2 linked regions of the Homo sapiens genome follow. The protein of the gene in region 1 interacts with the protein of each later gene in a pairwise test. Each region holds a gene or a part of one and is shown on either strand. Other genes may lie near its edges.

Evidence for each region.
Region 2: the proteins of MEIS1 (region 1) and TRMT10B interact in a two-hybrid assay, tested with the Homo sapiens proteins (one large-scale study listed by BioGRID and IntAct).

The regions. Positions count from the first base shown.
Region 1 is NC_000002.12:66,563,904-66,567,721, reverse strand, and holds part of MEIS1 (homeobox protein Meis1), read right to left. Parts: intron 270-3,818; coding exon 211-269; intron 1-210. UniProt on the Homo sapiens protein: Acts as a transcriptional regulator of PAX6. Acts as a transcriptional activator of PF4 in complex with PBX1 or PBX2. Required for hematopoiesis, megakaryocyte lineage development and vascular patterning.
Region 2 is NC_000009.12:37,752,243-37,756,627, reverse strand, and holds the start of TRMT10B (tRNA methyltransferase 10 homolog B), read right to left. Parts: upstream 2,824-4,385; 5' UTR 2,776-2,823; intron 1-2,775. UniProt on the Homo sapiens protein: S-adenosyl-L-methionine-dependent guanine N(1)-methyltransferase that catalyzes the formation of N(1)-methylguanine at position 9 (m1G9) in tRNAs. Probably not able to catalyze formation of N(1)-methyladenine at position 9 (m1A9) in tRNAs.

The sequences.
Region 1 (3,818 bases):
TGTTGGCTTTTTTTTTCCACCTTCTCCAAACGTTTTATAATGATGTTAAATTGATTAGTGTTGTTATGAAACGAAACTGGTTTAATTTTAATTGCCAGGCGTTCCTATACTCACTCCCAGTTTATTTACCAGGTAGCGGACCTCCCGGTGAATGGCTTGAGGATGGTTTTCGCTTGCGTGACTTGAATACAGTCACTATGGGGGACTTGCCTGCTCGGTTGGACTGGTCTATCATGGGCTGCACTATTCTTCTCCGGGCATTAATAAACCTGTAACCAAGAAAGTGAAACAAATCGTTATTCCTTAAAAATAAAAGGGGGGGTTGAGGAAGAGGAAAAGATGAATCGCAGTTGGAGTAAAACTAGATCTTGGCAAAATGGGACTCCTTCAGTTCTCTCCATTGCTCTATGTGCAGCCTCACGTGCTGGAAAACCTGTAACCCCCAGTGACCTTTGAGTACACAGGCTTGGGGTTTCTGAGTTGATTTATGTTTGCCTGTTTTACCACAGTTGGACACTTCCATTTCATCTTTTCATGGGGGAATTAGCAGAGTTTTCAGGAAACAATACTAGCCACCACTCCTTTCATTTGCAAAGAGAGAAAATTGGTGTAAAGAGTTAGATGCTCATAAGGGCATCTGTTACCTCTCCTAATTAGTGACATTTCAATCTTATGTTCTCTGACTTCTTTTGTACAATTTTTATCAAAACCACCCCTACCTCTTGCAAACCTAATTCTATTTTAATGCCCACTATTAAGATAATGAACTGGGATGGCAGCACACCATCAAATGAGAGAATGTCTGGAGTTTATCACCACTAACTCACACTGCTTAGGACTTCAGAGAAATGCATTCCTTGTAGAGATTTCTTGGGGTGGCTTTTTTTGTTGTTGTTGTTTTTTTTTTTTTTGCTCTTTATGTAAAGTCTGAGGTCAAGGCAAGGTCACAGATATACAGTAATTGAACTTATAGTTTTGCTTTCTCCAGCTAGTACTGAAAATTTATAAACATCTTATTAAGGCACTTAAGTTACTTTAAGTGCCTTAATAAGATAGTTTTGTACAATTATTTTTGTAGCCTCTCCAAAAGTGACAAGTCACTGACATGTAAAAAAGTATTAATATACGCTCTCCAGAGTCATACGCATGAGATTCTCTTAAGATCCGTTTGTTCTGCATAATATTAAAAATTACGTATCAAATCCAGAAAATGAAGAGGACATATTAGATTCTGAAATAGTAAATTCCTTTTAGTTCCCAACTCAGATCAAATCTGAGCAGGACATAAAAAATACAATGAAAAGTTTAATAAGGCTCTATTAATGATTAAAGGATCCATAGTCCAGTATGAATTCTAGTTTGTAAATCTGCCCACTTCAGGAAGGAAAATAGTTCCTAAAAACCAAACCATTAAACAGACAGGGACAGGTTTTCAAAACAAAAATGCATACTTCATAACATTTTAAGATTCTCAATATCCTGTATCCTTGTGTTCTTTCATTATCTGAGAAGTAATTGAAACAAATAATGAAACTAGAATCTAACTAAAAGGTATACTGTTTGTGCTAATTCTTGTTGGCAATACATATTATATCAGTTCTTGTATATGAAGTCCCTGAACTGCTAATAAAAATATTTAAAACACAGGTCTACAACAAATTGTGTTGCAAATCAGGTTATCATTATCTTGTATAAACCATGAAAACTGGAATCATGTGAGCAGAAGGTTAGATTAATTCTCCATTCTCATTATAAGCACAGGTGTAGCACAAACACCATGTGAAATAACCAATTAAAATGAAAAAAAATCTGTTTTTTCATTAGCTGCCTTCACTGCATGACCAATTAGAAAATTATTTAATATTAATATTCTGCATATACCAAAAGTAATTTTCATAGTAACTAATGTAGGTAAGAGAGCAAAAACATCTCTTTATCTATGGTACTGTTCATTATCTGCAGACTCTTAGAGGGAAGGAATTCTGTCTATTAACTTTCTTTTTCCAGACTTTTTAAAAACATAATCTTTTATGGATGTGACTTATACTACTTACCTAAAAATAGGAAGAGACATTTTTAACAGATGAGAAGCCTGGGCTCAGAGAAATTAGGTGACTTCTTTGAGGTCACATGTTACCAAAGAGATGTTAATAATTTGCTAAATGACACACAGCTGTCAGTGGTAGCAAGCACCCTCCTCCCTGGTGCTCTGGCACAGTGACTAGAGCACCGCAACTATAGTGCCACTCATCTAGAATATCCAGACTAAATAGATATATAAAAATTAGCTGGTTTCAAGCCAATTACCACTGGCAGCAACCCCAGTGTTTAGTCAAGGAAGAAGCATGACTGTGAACATTTTGTAAATTGAAAATTTTGATGGCTGCACTGTTTGTGTGTATAGGCAAAGATAAGGCTATTCAAAGAGAGAGAGAGAGAGTGAATACAGTGACTTGATTTATCTGTATTCCAAAACTTGTCTCCATCATATTCACATATTGAGACTCCCATAAACTAATTCATAATAATCAACTCAGGTTTGAGTCTATGACTATTAAAGTCGTGAGTTCATTTTTAAAAATTACACCTCAGGTTTCAAAAGGGCTGTAATGGTCACTTCGTTTGGTCACTGACATGAATCCCCTATATGATATCTGTCCCCCAAAAGTACATAGGTAACCTCTGCTGAACTAATACAGCACTCACCACCTTACTTAAGAGGCCACCCCATCTATAAACAAGGCTGTTAGAAGGTTCTGCCTTACTAGATCAAAAATATTTATGTTGGTGCAAAAGTAATTGCGGTCTTGCCATTACTTTCAGTGGCAAAAACAACAATTACAGGGGGAGGGGGAAGGGATAGCATTAGGAGATATACCTAATGTAAATGACGAGTTAATGGGGGCAGCACACCAACATGGCACATGTATACATATGTAACAAACCTGCACGTTGTGCACATGTACCCTAGAACTTAAAGTATAATTAAAAAAAAAAAAAACAATTACTTTTGCACCCAACCTAATAGTTTTATCAGCACAACTCCTTGGGGTACTGTAAGCAATTCTAATTTTACTTCCACAGGATAGCCCTTCAAATAGTTAAACATAGCCATTATGCTTTATAGCCTTCTCCCCTCTAATCCTTAGGTTAAACATTAGTGATTCTTAAAAAGTGCCTGCTAGAATGTGAGTCCTTCTAGGATATTGAGTCCATTCAATACCTGGACCACTCTCTGCTCAGTAGGCTGATCTTTGTCTATGTCCTCCTGAAGCCTTGCAGTGGACAACACCAACGACATTTATTCCAGGCCTGCTCTGATCCCCAGGTAGAAAGCAAATACACACAAAAAATACCACAGCCTCTTAGCCAACTGCCCACAGGTACTAGATGTTATTTGCTTCTTTTTGGTGGCAAGAACTGTTTGTTGTTATTAAGAACACAGATGTCAGCTACCCCTAGAATGTGTAGATATCAAAGGGGGAAACCTTTAATTAAAAAATAAAACATAAACAAAAACACTGAAAACCTGAGAAAAACTAATCACCTTTTCTGAGCTGTTTGACCACATTAGTAGGTCTACCTGCAACTTCTTACTTGTGAAACATTTAATTTAAAAAATTCAATATAATGAAATATCATTAGTACATATAGGATGTAGTAATCTCTCAGAACGTTACTGAATTACAATTACTACACTTATATGAACAACTAATTATTTGGGGTCATGATGGACATCTATGTGAAAACAACAAAGTAAATAGCAAAATATTTTATTTTTAAAACAACATCACCTTTTCGACCTTAAACAATCTCCA
Region 2 (4,385 bases), on another chromosome or scaffold:
TTCAAGCGATTCTCATGCCTCAGCCTCCCGAGTAGCTGGGTCTACGGGCACGCACCACCACACCACGCTAATTTTTTCATTTTAAGTAGAGATCAGGTTTCACCAAGTTGGCCAGGCTGGTCTCAAACTCCTGACCCAAGTGATCCACCCATCTCAGGCTCCCAAAGTGCTGGGATTACAGGAGTGAGCCACCGCACCCAGCCATTTTTTTTTTTTTAAACAAAAGATATCTAGACCCCCATTATGACAGTTCTTTTAGATGAATGAACAGACTTTTATACCATCAGAGTCATCTGCATTTTCCTGCATATAGGCATTCAGAAAATAACAAATGAAAACATTAAGATAAACTAATCTTTAACTGACAACTTCATTGTATTAGGGTGAGAAAACCAACACCCATTTGTTAAATAAATGCTAGTTAATAGCCATGTGATCTCTTCCTCCTTTAAACTTCATAGCATTTTGTATTTTTACCTGTGTTGACCATTCATTAGTTAATAAACATTCCACCAAGCTCCTACTGTATGCCGGGGCCTGTTGGGGAATGACTGGGAGGCAATGGATCTAGAGATTTCTCTGGAGGTAGTCTGGCTAAGGAGGGGAAAAGAGATCTAGGATAGGAGATCCTAGGAGCTACAGACTTCCACTGTTGTTTTCAAAAATTGGAAAGTCTGTGCTGGTATCTTCTCTCCTATCAAACTGAATTCCTTTGTAGGAGGGCTTATACCTACATTTACCTAAACACTTAAGAGTTCACAGTATAGAACCTTGAAAACAGCAGTGTTTATTTTTTGTTTAATTGAACTGAAGTTTACCGCCACCACTCCCACTCCCTTCCTTTCTTTTCCCCTCCTTTTACCTCATGTTTCTCCAAATCTCTACAGTCCCTGAGAATGTTTCTTAAACCAGGAATTTGGGATGCAATAACCTTGCAAATCAAATAAAAACAACTCCAACCACCATCAGAAGAGTAATAGAACAAGCTAACACTCCTGAAGGCGGGGCCCACCTCTTTTGTATCTTTGTATCTCTGTTGTCTGGCATAAGGCCTGGCACAGAATGGAAGCTCAATAAATACTGATTAGGTGATTGCCACCTAGGGATCCTCAGAAAGCAAAGGTGAAGTTGGACATCACAGAAGCAGAGATCTGCTCAATCTGTGTGGGACATTATCTATGCCCAAATTTAGCATTTTTTTTTGGACATAGGAACTACCATTTTAACCATTTGTAAATGTGCAGTTAAAAACACACCTAAGGGCATCCACATTGTGTGCCACCATCACCACTGTCCAGCTCCAGAGCTTGTTTGTCTTCCTAAAGTGAAACTAACTTTAAAAAAAAAAAAAAAAAAAAAGACGGAGTCTTACTCTGTCGCCCAGGCTGGAGTGCAGTGGCGCGATCTCGACTCACTGCAAGCTTTGCCTCCCAGGTTCACGCATTCTCCTGCCTCAGCTTCCTGAGTAGCTGGGACTACAGGCACCCGCCACCATGTCCGGCTAGATTTTTTTGTATTTTTAGTAGAGACGGAGTTTCACCATTTTAGCCAGGATGGTCTCGATCTCCTGACCTCGCGACCCACCTGTCTGGGCCTCCCAAAGTGCTAGGATTACAGGCGTGAGCCACCACACCCGACCCTGTGACCTTTATATAACTCTCCCTTCCCCAATCCTGGCAGCACCTTTGTATTTCCTATCTTATGAATTTGAGTGCTGCTCTGGTTTGAATGTTTGTCCCCTTCTCACATTCAGGTTGAAACTTAATTGCCATTGTAACAGTATCAAGAAGTGAGATTTCATTTATTTTTCATTTCTTCATTAAACATCTTTTCTGAGCCTCCAATTATGGGTCCGATGCTGAATATTCATTACTTTCGTTCAACAAAGCTACTAAGCACCTGACATAATAGTACATCCTGGGGACTTGGGGATGACATTCGTTCTGCTTTCATGGGGCTCCAATTATCTGACCCTGCCTTGCATGACAGCTGTCTACCTGTTTCCCCACTAGATTATAAACCCAGGGAAGAATTGGAAGAATTCACCTGTACACCCTCAGTACCCGAGCCCTGTGAGCATCCTAAGTATTTGATGATCACCACTCTTCTGCTTAGAACCCTGCAGTACTCTCCATTTCACTGACAGTAAATAGCCCAAATCCATACAATGACCTATGCAGATCACTAAGGTCTACCTTTCTCGTTTCCTCTGCACTCCGGGGTCTATTTGCTGTTCCTCAAACATACCCTTCAAGGCCTTTACATTCGCCGTTCTCTTTACCCTCAATGCTCTTCCCTAAGACACTCACAGACTACCTTCCTCTCCTCATTCATATTACTATCCAACATAACCTATTTTACTTGTTGTCGGAACCTCCTCCATCCCTTCAATGTAGGCAAGTGTTGTTTGCTTATAGATGCTTAATAAATACTTGCTGAGTTCATAAATCCTCCACTCCGCACCCCCACCCTAGGTTGGCAGAGGCCTCAGACCTTTGCTAGCCTAACTCCCACCTGATGGGTACCTACACTGCCGCTAAGTGATGGCACATCGAATTCAGCCTGAGAGCACCCCGCCTGCGGGTCTCTCCCGGCCCACAGGCTGAGCGTGCGAGTGGAAGCAGGAAGGGAAAGTATCAGGAAGGTGGAGTACCACAGGCCACATGACTGCTAAACGCTGCTTTCTCAACGTCCGCCCCACCCGCGAGGGAGGCGGACGTCCCAGGACAGACCCCGCAGCCCCCAGCCAGCCCCCTTAACCAGCGGACAGCGTACCTGATCCCCTCACCCCCACGCAGCGGCAGCGGCGCGCATCGGATCCCCCCCGCCCCCGGCCTCGCTTCCGCTTCGTAACTCCGCTCCGAATGGCATTCTGGAAATTGTAGTTTTTCACCTGCAGGGTGCTCGTGGGGCCGAGCCGGAGCGGAGGCTGCGGCTTCTACTCCCAGCCCTGGCGGTAGGGAGCTGCGTCCTGCTGTGGTGGTTGCCCACCTTCTCTGAACCCCTGTCTCCCCGTCTGCTGGACAGCTATTACAACCCCAACCCTTTACCAACTTCACAGGGCTCCTACAGGTGCTCTGTTGGTTGTCAAGGGCTGGACATTGCGAAACTGGGGTGTGTGAAGCAAAAAAATTCTAAGGCCCGCACCCGACTGAATGGACCTCCCTCTCTGCCGAAGGAAACCTTAAAAACTAGTTATGGCCATTACAGGAAGCGGGAGTGGAGCGGGGCGGTTGGACATGCACTGATATTATATCCCATCCCTTGCGGAGTTTAGGCCCAACGGGGACTGACACAACAGAATCTTTGTAGAACTAAAATATCAAATTCCAACCTGATATCATATTGTGTCCGGAAATGGTGGATTCTTGGTCTCACTGACTTCAAGAATGAAACCGCGGACCATCGCGGTGTTACAATTCTTAAAGACTGCGTGTCTGGAGTTTCTTCCTTCTGGCGGGTTCATGGTCTCGCTAGCTTCAGGAGTGAAGCTGCAGATCTTCGCAATGAGTGTTAAATCTCTTAAGAGGGCACACCTGGAGTTGTTCCTTCGCTCTCGGTGGGTTCGTGGTCACACGGGCCTCAAGAAAGAGCTGCAAATACAGATCTTCACGGCGAGTGTTATAGCTCACAAAGACAGTAGGGACCCAAAGGGTTAGCAAGCAACAAGATTTATTACAAAGAACAAAGCACCCACAGTCCAGAAAGGCAACCCCAACGGGTTGCCGCTGCTTGCTCGGGCAGCCTGTTTTTATTCTCCTATCTGGCCCCACCCACATCCTGCTGATTGGTCCACTTTACAGAGAGCCGATTGGTCTGTTTTACAGAGAGTTGATTGGTCCGTTTTGACAGGGTGCTGATTGGTGCGTTAACAATCCCTGAGCTAGACACAAAAGTTCTCCAAGTCCCCACTAGATTAGCTAGACACAGAGTGTTGATTGGTATATTTACAAACCCTGAGCTAGACACAGAGTGCTGATTGGTGCATTTACAAACCTTGAGCTAGATACAGAGTGCCGATTGGTGCATTCACAATCCCTTAGCTATACATAAAGATTCTCCAAGTCCCCACCAGATTAGCTAGACACAGAGTGCCGATTGGTGCATCCACAAACCCTGAGCTGGACACAGAGTGCTGATTGGTGCATTTACAAACCTTGAGCTAGATACAGAGTGCTCATTGGTGTATTTACAATCCCTTAGCTAAACATAAAGGTTCTCCAAGTCCCCACTGGACTCAGGAGCCCAGCTGGCTTCATCCAGTGGATCCAGCACTGGGGCCGCAGGTGAAGCTACCTGCCAGTCCCTCGCCGTGTGCCCACATTCCTCAGCCTTTGGGCGGTCGATGGGACCGGGTGCCGTGGAGCAGGGGTCAGTGCTCGTCT